3 linked regions of the Homo sapiens genome follow. The protein of the gene in region 2 interacts with the protein of the main gene of each other region in a biochemical or structural test. Each region holds a gene or a part of one and is shown on either strand. Other genes may lie near its edges.

Region 1 (3,647 bases), on a different chromosome or scaffold from region 2:
ACCCAGGGATCCTGCAAGGGCCAGCTGAGAAGTCACTTCTATGTGCCTTTCTTGGTCTCCTCAGGGAGCCATGGCCCTTCTCTGCAAAGCCTCAGCACTGTGTGCATGCACTTAACATGCGGGGACACAGATGTTTCTGAGTCCTCTGTCCCTAAGAAGACACGGGGTCCCTGAGGGCAGGGTTGGTGCCTCGTTTATTTCTGCAGGCCACAGTACCTGGTGATGGTGGCACTCACAGAATGAGGACAGAGGACAGGAGGGGAACCAGCCTGTGCCTTGCTCAATGTCCCACTTTGGGTCTGTGTCATCTCTGTAGGGGCACACAGGTAAATATTTATTCCTAGCCAAACCACAGGCAAAGCTGACTTAATTTCCAAAAATAAGCTTTTTTGGTAGTTCTTTCAAATTCTACTCATAGGCCCCAACTCCTAAAACTTAAGGAAATGTGGCGGCAGGGGGCGGAGTTCCATTTTGTTATTCTCTTCTCCCACCTTCTGATTAGGACTCACCCCCCACCCCATTGCCACAGCAGCTAAGCCAGTTCGGTCCACCTTTCCCTTCAGCACGAGAGGCTGGGAGGCTTTCATCCCAGCACGCACAGCACTGGTTTCATGGAACACGCTTTGCCCCACGGGTGTGGACGGCCCTCCTCCTTCCACAGGCCTCCTCCCAACCTTCCCCTTTAAAACCCACCAGCCAACCATGGAGGCGGCGCCCCTGGGAACCTTCCCAGAGAGGCATGAGGCATGAGGCACGACCCTAGACTGAGCCCAGAGAACGTCCCAAGGCCTGACAAGGAGACAGCAGAGCTGATGACAGGGAGAAGTGTTGCTGTTTTTTCTTTCCCTGATGTTGAGGAACGAAGACAACTGATTGGGAGCACATGGGGAGCACGGACAGGACCAAGACAGGGACGATGATAAAAACAGAACGCTTCTCTGCCTCCAGCAGGGGCATCCGGAGACCCTGACGGGCAAGCAGGGCAGAGTGGGAAAGGAGGGGAGAGAGAAGAGGGCAGTGCCAGCAGGAACAGCCAGACCCACATGCAGGACATTCCGAGAGACAGCAGCAAGCCCTGGCCCCGCAGTCACCAGCCACCACCCTGAGCAGGCTGCAGGCTCCTTCCTCCCTGGCTCAACACGCAGACCTCCCCTCTTGGGAGAGGAGAGACGGCAGCAGGCAAACAGGATACATGGACATCGTGAAGCCTGCTGCGGCTGCCTGAGACAGGCCTTTCTGAAGGCAACTCAGTTCACCTGTCCAGGCTGACCTCCTTCTTCAAAGGCAATAGGATGGCAGTACAGGAGGGTGGGCTGCTCTTTGCAAGCAGCAAGCCCCACCCCTGGGCTGAGCACTTGAGAAGGGAGAAGAGGTGTAGGGCCCTATCTGAGACTTTTCAGATGCTCAGTACCCAGCGGAGGGGGGAGGCTGCTGGACCCAAGGACGGAAGGAGCCTGCCCTGGAGGAGTCGGGCTGCAGGGTAAACCCAGATCCCGGGCATGCATTGCAATGGCCAGGGGGAGAGCAGAGGCAGGTGTACGGGTGGGAGGCCTCCGTGCGCCTGCAAAACTAGGGAAGCTCTTCTCTGAGCTGAGAGGATTCAGCCCTCAAAGCTGGGGCAGGATGTGGCACCAGGCAGGCAGGAGCCCATTCTTCCAGCTCTCCTGCCTCTGTGTCTCCCCAAGCCTGGAAATGCATGCTCCCCCCGTGCCCGTGGCGAGGGCAGGACATCGAGAGGAGAAGTTACAGTGTGTACCTTCCAGAACGGTCAACCATGCAGAGTGATGGGAGAGTCCGATAGAGTTACCCGCCAAGCACGTATACTCCCCTGCGTCCTCAAAGGAGACATTTCTTAAGTGAAGCACCTCCATCTCTTTGTCGGTGGTATTAACTCCAGCAGTCTAGAAGAGACAACGGAAGCAAAATGGACAAGCACAGGACATGAGACCTCTAAGAGACGCAGAGCAAGGGAAGGAGACAGAAAGAAGGGGGACTAGAGGAAGAAATGCTCCCTGACATCTTCTTTGCAACAAGGAACAAACGAAAACCACCAGGCAGCAAAACCTGTTAGAGGAAGAGGGTGAGACCCTGAGGGAAGAACTCCGGCAGACCTGAGAAGACGATGGCTGGTTACGACCCTTCACCAGATGCTGGCAGCCACTGGCCCATCCGAGCATGCGGGCGGTGAGCGGCATGGAGAAATGGGGCCGGCGGGCAGGGGCTGTTTGGTTTCAGGTAAAGATAGCCAGAAGGTGAACACAGGAGGGATGGCGGGGGCTGCAGACACACACATGCACACGCATACACACACGCACATGTGCATACACAGCCAGCAGATGCGAGTATGCAAGGGAATGCCTAACCCCTTCTCTCTCTTTTTTAAGAGATGGGGTACCATTCTGTCAACCCAGGCTGGGGTGCAGTGGCATAAACATAGCTCACTGCAGCCTCGACCTAAGCTCAGGCAATCCTCCTGCCTCAGCCTTCAGACTAGCTGGGACTACAGGCACACGCCACCATACTTGGCTAATTTATTTAATTTGTAGAGATGGGGTCTTGCTATGTTGCCCAGGCTGGTCTCAAACTCCTGGCTTCAAGCGATCCTCCCACCTCAGCCTCCCAAAGTGCTGGGATGACAGGCGTGAGCCACTGTGCCTGGCCTATGGCCCCTTCTCTTAATCACCACTCACTCACAACTTCAGTCTGAAGTACCATTTGTAACACAGCAAAACCGTGTCCCCGTGAGTCCTCACATGGATCCACACAAAGCCAAGGAACACACAGAAGGCAGAGAGGGAACCCACAGACACCAACACAATACCAAACCAAACCAGCCTCCCAGGCCGGGTATTTTTCCATGGCTCTGGGCACTAGAAATACAGTAGGGTGGCAAGGACAGTCCAGTACTGGCTTCCCCGCCTGCCCCAGCAGCTTGGGGCCTACATCAAATCCCCAGCACAGGGTCCCATCCATCTCCCCATTACCTTTTGCCACAGGTCTGGTGACAGTGAGCCACGCAGACTGGTTAGCTTCACCAATATAATTGGAAACCTTACACACATACTCCCCGCTCTGGGCCTCTGTCACATTGAACAGGGTCAGCACCTCCGCATCCGAGCTATTAATCCCCGAATGCTGGAACAAACCAACGACACACCAGTCAGTTGGGCAAAGCTGAGATGTGGCCACGCACGTTGCTCCCGTGTAACTTTCAGGCAGGCCCAGGGAGCGAAGGGAGATGTTAAGTGAGATTTATTACCTTTCCCTTTTAGTTTTTTTTTTTTTTTTTTTTTTTAACGCAGAGTCTCACTCACTCTGTCACCCAGGCTGGAGTGCAGTGGCGTGATCTCAGCTCACTGCAACCTCTGCCTTCTGGGTTCAAGCAGTTAGCTTGCCTCAGCCTCCTGAGTAGCTGGGACTACAGGTGCCAACCACTATGCACAGCTAATTTTTGTATTTTTAGTAGAGATGGGGTTTCACCATGTTGGCCGGGCTGGTCTCAAACTCCTGACCTCAAGTGATCTAAAGTGCTGGGATTACAGGCGTGAGCCACTGCGCCCGGCCTTCTTTCCCTTTTACAAGTACAGAACAAGTGGACTTCAAAAGTCCAAAGCATTTGATTAAAAAAAAAAAAAAAAAAAAAGAAT
Region 2 (3,647 bases):
AAAGTCAAGTTCATGGTGTTGCCATTGGACATACTGCCATTTACTCAATTATGGACACCACATCAAAGACCAAGTGAATAAGGTGGAACTATGTTACTTAGCTATCTCTAGTCCTCAGTAAAACTCCAGAGGCCATGATTTTTCTGAACTGGAGATTCAAACGTGAAATGTATTAGCAATGAACATTGGAGAGGAAAAACGTTTTTTTAAAAAAATTTGTAAGTTAAAAAAAAAGCAAATACTTAGATTTAAGTCTAACAAAATATGCGCGGAATCTGTAAGCTGAAAACTACAAAGTAACAATGAAAGAAATCAAAGGCAATCTATGTAAAGGAAGATATATGCTATGTCTGGCCAGGTACGGTGACTCACGCTTATAAATCCCAGCACTTTGGGAGGCCAAGGCAGGTGGATCCCTTGAGGTGGCGACACCCTGTCTCTGCTAAAAATACGAAAATTAGTCAGGCATGATGGCGCTCGCCTGTAATCCCAGCTACTGGGGAGGCTGAGGCAGGAGAATTGCTTCAACTCAGGAGGCAGAGGTTGCAGTGAGCCAAGATCATGCTACTAAACTCCAGCCTGGGTAATCTCAGAGCAAGACTCTGTCCTCACCCCCCGCCAAAAAAGATATACGCCATGTTCATAAATTGAAAAGCTATTGTTAAATTCTCCTCAAATTGGTCTAGAAATTTAACACATCACAATCCAAATCTCAGAATTTTTTTAGATATTGATGTTAATATCCTTGCCCATCAGTAGTGACAGAAGCATCGATCTTACCAGCCAAATATAAATGGACTCTCCTTTGTTAAACCCTCAGCAGTCACCCATACAGGACATTCATGTATTAGATTATGTGAAATGACTATAGTCATCCGCTAAATTAATGCAGAACATTAATAATGAAGTTTTATCAGGGCCTTCCATTCACAGGCATAAGAGGTCTTATCAACTGACTTTGATGTTACCTGCCTGGATCTAACCCTGGAGACTAGATCCACATCGACATTCACCAGAGAAAATCACTTGGACCTTGCTCTTTAAGGGGCCACACTAAGTCCTATCTACCCCCCACCACTGCTATAAAGTGCCAGAGCTTTCGGTCTTGGGTCCATGCTTCCCACTGCCAGAGACTTCACTTATTGCCTGCAGCAGACAACATTAGTGAAGCTCTCATTAACCACTCAAGTTTGCTGTCGTCTTCCATGACCTTCCCCATGAAATGGATACAAAGATAAGCATTACACATGGGTATCACTTCCTTGCATTAGCCAATTATCAGGATTTCCACTAGTTATATGTTCACTGGGTAAGATCCTTAAAATTCAGATGTCACAAAGATTAACTAATGGGTTTTCGATCTCGAGGTCATGGACACATCCACCAAGTACCCTGTATATCAGGAATAGATCCTTCTTATCTTTTTTAAGTACTCTAAGAATCAGATTACCAGATCTGTCTTGCCATTTGCTCTGTAACTGGTCTCGTCTTTCCAGCTGGCCCTTTGGGCTGCTAAAAGCAGTTTATCTCACAACCTTTAGTCCTTTGCTACTCAAAGTATGGCTCACAGACCAGCAGCATTAATATCACCAGGAAACTTGTTAGAAATGCAGAATCTCAGGCCCCACTCCAGATCTGCTGAACCAGTCTGCATTTGCTCAAGATCTCCAGGTGATTCGCATCAGGAGCATTGCTTACAAAGATTTAACCTTACTTTCCATTGGTTAAGTGAGTCCTTATCAAGCCAACCCTGATCCAAGAGTAACAATCAAGTTCAGCTGTGCACCACAGCAAATGAGGCATCACCTGATGGTTCTTAATGGGTGGTTGTTCCTATTTGTTGCTTTTGTTGGTCACTGAGAGTTGGTTTTAAGATTAAAGGGACCTTTTTCTCCAAAGGAAGATTTGCCACACCAAAGCAGGAAAGGCAATGGTTTACCAAACAAAAAAACCCTAGGCCCTTTTATAAGTCTAATGTTTACCCAAACACAGAAACATAAGATGTTTCTTTCCTCTATGCTCCAAAATATTAGGTCAGAGTTAGAAAGGAGAATCCATAGGCAGGTAACTTTTTGTTAACACCTTGCAAATGGTGATACTTGCAACGCCTGGCAAATGGTGACGCCTTGGACGTATTACTCAACAAATTTTCCATGGCAGGCCCATGGATCCAACCTCATAGACAATTCCAGTATGTCTGTCTTACATCTGACACTATACGAGGTTTATTGTAACATCCACTAATGGCTTATATAAGTGAGTTAAGCACTTTTAATTACAACTATCCCCCAAAGAAACTGAATTTCCTGTTTCTGTTGATGTGATCATATAGTTTTTCTCCTTTAATCTGTAGAGAGGTAAATTACATATTTTTATTAAAACATCCTCCTGTTCCTGGGAAAGATTCTCCTTTTGCTCATGATACAATATTTTATGCACTGCTACATTCAATGTGCCAATATTTCATCAGCAATTTTTCCATCTATGTTCATAAACAAGATTGGTCTATTAATATTTCACAGTCTTTGCTCAAGTGTAGCTTTGAGATTTTACTAACTTTCTGAAATGGGTTGGGTAGCTTTCTCTCATTTCAAAGTTTCTATAAGACAGGAATTATCAGTTTCTTGATGTTTTGGTAACATTCATCTTTCAAAAATTGTCTTTTGGCGAGGTGGACTTGTGATTACTGATTCCACTTCCTTAGTGGTTGATTTAAATTGTCAAAATCTTAGATGGATCTTCTACTGTTTTCCTAGAAATATATCCATTTCTTCTCCACTTACAAAATTTTTATCATAAAGTTAATGGTATTCTTATGATTATTTTAAATCTCTATTGGTAGTTATGTCCTTTAAAAAAAAATCTAAATACTGTTTATTTGGGCCTTTTCCTTTCCTGACTGGAGGTTTATCTGAAGGGTCCCTTCTGCTGCAGCCTGCAAAGCCTCCATCAAGGGACACCCACTAGCTGGTTGCTGCCACAGCTGTGGCTTTACCTACCCCAGCTAACCCAGCGAGTATTAGTCCATCCCCACACTGCTATAAAGAACTGCCTGAGACGGGGTAATTTATAATAAAAAGGATTGACTCACAGTTCCGCAAGGCTGCAGAAGCCTCCAGAAACTCACAATCATGGTGGAAGGCACCTCTTCACAGGGCAGCAGGAAGAATGAATGCAGGAGGAACTACCAAATACTTATAAAACCATCAGATCTCATGGGAACTATCACGAGAACAGCATGGGAGAAACCAACCCCATGATCCAATTACTTTCATCTGGTCTCTCCCTTAACATGTTGAGATTATAATTCAAGATGAGATTTGTGCGGTGGGGACAGAAAGCCTAACCATTATCAGTATGTTTGCTTGTTTACTTCTATTTTAAACTTTAAAATAAACCCGTAACTTTAGCAGTGCTGTTTTGCTACTCCTCTTAAATTCTCTCATTTTCTTGTGTATTTCATCCTTTTGCTAGTTTTGCACTGGTTACTACTCAGTTTCTTTGTTGTACTGAGTCATTTAAGTATCATTTTGAGAATGGAAAAAAATGTTATTAAGTTCATTATTCCTTATGTATTTACTGAGCATACAATTGTTATAGAAGGCAGAAAGAATTTAGGTAGACAGGGTAAAGCGAGTCCCCGGCAG
Region 3 (3,647 bases), on a different chromosome or scaffold from region 2:
TCCTGGTTCCCCATGGTACAGATCCTAGGATCTGACTCCATTCACCAGGGAGCAGCCCTAACCCCCAGCCCTGCAGCTCCCAAGGGCCCCTGCCTGCCCCTGGACATTATTGCTTTTCTGCCCCCATAGGGGGACAGCGGGTGGGGGATTGGACCGCCCCGTGCCTGGCCACTCCGAGCCTAGGCCACGGGGCCTGGAAGGCAGCACCACTGTCTGCCGGGTGTCGCGTCCCACCAGAAGGCAGCCTTCGTCCAGATGCAGCAGCGCGGAGGCAGACACCAGCACGACACCCAGGCCAGAAACTCAGGCAGGCCCCAGGCGCCATGCTTCACCCCTCACTGGGGCTTGTGTGGATTAAAACCTGAATCTCCAACCGCCCAACAGCCCAGGCCTGGGCGGGAGGTGGAGTCTTCCAAATGCGAGTCTGGGCACAAAGGTGAGGCTGGAGGCTGGAGGCAGGGGCTGCAGGGGCCGCTGGGGTGCGTCTGGGAGGGGCCTGAAGAAGAACTGGAAAGGGGGTGAGGAGGTGGGGGTGGGGACACAAACCAAAAAGGCTAAGTAAAAAGTTAGGGGGAAAAAACCACCCAGCGGTGATGGCAGCGAGCGTGCGTCCTCTGCGTGGGCAGACTGCTCACTCGCGGATGCTGGCCGAGTAGGAGAACTGGGGGAAGTGGGTCCGCTGGTCCAGCTCCAGTAAGCCCAGGCTGTCATCTGTGGGCGGCAGAGGTGGATGGGGAGGACCAGTCAGGAGAGGGCCTGGGACACCTGCCCAGACTCCCTGGGGAAACGGCCCCAGCTGGCGGGGGCTGCCCACAGGACAGGACAGGAAAGGCCCATCCCTCCGCAATGGAGGCCCTCAGCCACGGACCCACTCCCCAAACCTGAGCCCCGGGCGGCCTCCTCTGGGAGTTTCCTGTGCCCTTGCCCATGCGCCCCACAGCTGGCAGGGCCTTCTGAGCCTCCCACCTTCTCTCTGCCCCACACACCACCATGCCAGAGTCCAGCCCAGAGCCCTGTCCTGGCCTGCCTCTCGCACCCTCCCATCCATTCTCCACGGGCAGCCAGGGGGGCTTTCTAAAGGCCTGCTTTAACCCTGTCCCTCTCTGTATGAAACCCTTCCATGGCTGGCTCCCGCCATGCAAGCAGTCCCCACCCCTCCCAGTGGCCCCCAGACCCTTGCACTCCAGCCCCATGCCCTCTCTTCTCACCACCATCTCCCTGGCTGCTGCCGGTCCTTAGCTATGCCATGCTTCTCCCATTGCTGGCATCCCACACGTCATTCCTCCGGCCAGCTGACACGTTTGCTTCCTCCTCTAGAAAGCCCTCCCTAACTGCAGGCCAGGTCGGATATTTCCTCTGGGATTCCCCAGTCCCTGGCCTCCCACGCCCTAGCCCTGACCACTCCAGGCCGCCCACCCTACCTGGGCTGGGAGCTTTCCAGGGCAGGGCCCAGGGCTGGCTCAATCAGTGCTGTGTCCCCAGCATAGCCCAGCCCTGGGCTGAGTTCAGAGTAAGAACCCAAACAGCTGTAAAGCAGTGAACCCAGCCAGGCTCAGGGACCGGGCTGCCTCCTGCCCTGAGCCCCCCGACTGAGCTCCAGAACGTGCTGCAGTCAATGGCTCCTGGTGGCCTCACCAGGTCCAAAGAGGACCAACAGCAAAAGGGCCTGAGAGCAGACTTGGGGAAATCTCCCAGACATGAAGCGGGGGCCTTCGAGGGCCCTCCTTGAGAAGTGAGTTAAGAGCAGATCCCATCCCTCCACCCCTGGGGCAGGCACACCAGCGCGGGGGCCCCAGGCACTCACAGCGGTCAGGGGGTGTGATTGTGATGGACTGGGCGGTAAATTCATCATCGAAGTACCTTGTGTCGACCTCGGACGTGACCTGAGGTTTGAAGGGTGGCAGGAGCTACGGAGGAGAGGAGCTCAGGCTCAGGGACCCTGAGGCCAGGAGGCCTCAACCAAGGTCACCACGAGTGGGCCAGGTCCCTGAGGGTCCTGCTGGGGCAAGCAGTGGGGCTCACCTTCTTCTGGACCACGTCCTGCCAGTTGATGCTGAGGAAGAACCTGTGCTCCATGACCTCCTTGGCATCGCTGGGCCCCCCACCAAGCCTGTGCAGAGACGGCCGTCAGCACCTGCCTCCCGGAGCAGCTGGGTTCGGGCAGACGGGCTTTCGGAGCAGGCAGGCCCTGTATGGCCCTTAATGATTCTGTCTTGACCACAAACCACTTCACAGAGGAGGAAACCGAGGCTCAGGGAGGGAGCTCACGTGCCCAGGGTCAGAGCCAGGGAGTCAGCAACCCGGACCCACGTGTCCTCACTGCCTGGCCTTACCCTGAGTCCAGAAAGGGAGTTAGTAGGGCAGGCTCCGTTCCTATCCTGGCTCTGCCACATATGGTTTGGTGGCCCCAGCCAGGCCCAGGGGATGCCCTGTTCCTCAGTGTCCCCATAAAATAAGGCAGTGTCAAGGATGGGCCTGCCCTGGGGGAAGCACTCCCTAAGTGCCACTGTGGACGTTTTCAGGGGCTGTGTGGGGACGACACACTGCGACCCTACAAGCGAGCACCCTTGTGGACGCTGCCCCCTCCAGGCCGCAGGGACAGTGGCAGCAGCTGGCGCTGGGCTGGGTGGGGCCGACGCCAGCCCTCACCTCTGCTTGGGGTCCTTCTTAAGCAGCCCAGCAAGCAGGGACTTGGCCTCGGGGCTGAGCGTGCGCGGGAAGCGGATCTCTTCCATGAGGATGAGCTCGAAGAGGCGCTCGTGGTCCTGGTTGTAGAAGGGCAGGCGGCCGCACATCATCTCGTACATGACCACACCCAGCCCCCACCAGTCCACGGCCCGGCCATAGTCATTGTCCTCCAGCACCTGAGGATGGAGGAGAAATGAGGGCTGGGCCCGTGGCCCTGAGGCTGGCATCACAGTCCTGCCCTCAGGGCATCTGGGCTGGAAACACACAGGTCTGGGGGATCCCCCTACCCTTGGCCTCACACGTTCCTACCCCCACCAACCCCAGACACCTCAGGCGCCAGGTACTCCGGGGTCCCACAGAAGGTTTTCATGGTGGCCCCGTCACTGATGCCCTCTTTGCAGAGGCCAAAGTCAGTGATCTTGATGTGGCCATCTTTGTCCAGCATGAGGTTTTCCAGCTGTTGGAAAAGTCAACGGATCTCAGGTGCATGCTCCCAAGGCTTCCTGCCACCCCAGCCTTTCCTTCCAGGGAAAGATGCCCGGGGCTCCTGGACATCAACCCTCCCATGCCAGGCTGGGCCCAGCACACACAGCCTCACCCTCTGAGGCTCAGAGAGAGGCCAGATCCAACCCTCCTCACCCTCTGGCCCACCCCCATGGTACCTGGGAACAGCTGGGCAGGGAGAGCCGAGAGCCAGGCCCTGTCCACCCACCGTCCCCATTGTGAACTGTGGTTCTTATTTCGAACGTGGGGGCACTAGCTTTCTTCTATTCTTTTTTTCTAGACTTTCTGTCCTTTAATTATGAAATATGCAGCCAGGCAAAGTGGCTCACACCTGTAATCCCAGCAATTTGGGGGACTTAGGTGGCAGGATTGCTTGAACCCATGAGTTTGAGACCAGCCTGGGCAACACAGCGAGACCCCATCTCCATATTTCTTAATATGAAAAAAAAAATTAG

Evidence for each region.
Region 1: the proteins of PDK1 (region 2) and FGFR1 form a complex in vitro, tested with the Homo sapiens proteins (one study listed by BioGRID).
Region 3: of the proteins of PDK1 (region 2) and AKT2, one has a biochemical effect on the other in vitro, tested with the Homo sapiens proteins (one study listed by IntAct).

The regions. Positions count from the first base shown.
Region 1 is NC_000008.11:38,420,041-38,423,687, forward strand, and holds part of FGFR1 (fibroblast growth factor receptor 1 isoform 1 precursor), read right to left. Parts: intron 1,902-3,647; coding exon 1,757-1,901; intron 1-1,756. UniProt on the Homo sapiens protein: Tyrosine-protein kinase that acts as a cell-surface receptor for fibroblast growth factors and plays an essential role in the regulation of embryonic development, cell proliferation, differentiation and migration.
Region 2 is NC_000002.12:172,601,059-172,604,705, reverse strand, and holds part of PDK1 ([Pyruvate dehydrogenase (acetyl-transferring)] kinase isozyme 1, mitochondrial isoform 2 precursor), read right to left. Parts: 3' UTR 1-3,647. UniProt on the Homo sapiens protein: Kinase that plays a key role in regulation of glucose and fatty acid metabolism and homeostasis via phosphorylation of the pyruvate dehydrogenase subunits PDHA1 and PDHA2.
Region 3 is NC_000019.10:40,233,241-40,236,887, forward strand, and holds part of AKT2 (RAC-beta serine/threonine-protein kinase), read right to left. Parts: intron 3,146-3,647; coding exon 3,017-3,145; intron 2,865-3,016; coding exon 2,650-2,864; intron 2,111-2,649; coding exon 2,023-2,110; intron 1,908-2,022; coding exon 1,805-1,907; intron 712-1,804; coding exon 632-711; 3' UTR 1-631. UniProt on the Homo sapiens protein: Serine/threonine kinase closely related to AKT1 and AKT3. All 3 enzymes, AKT1, AKT2 and AKT3, are collectively known as AKT kinase.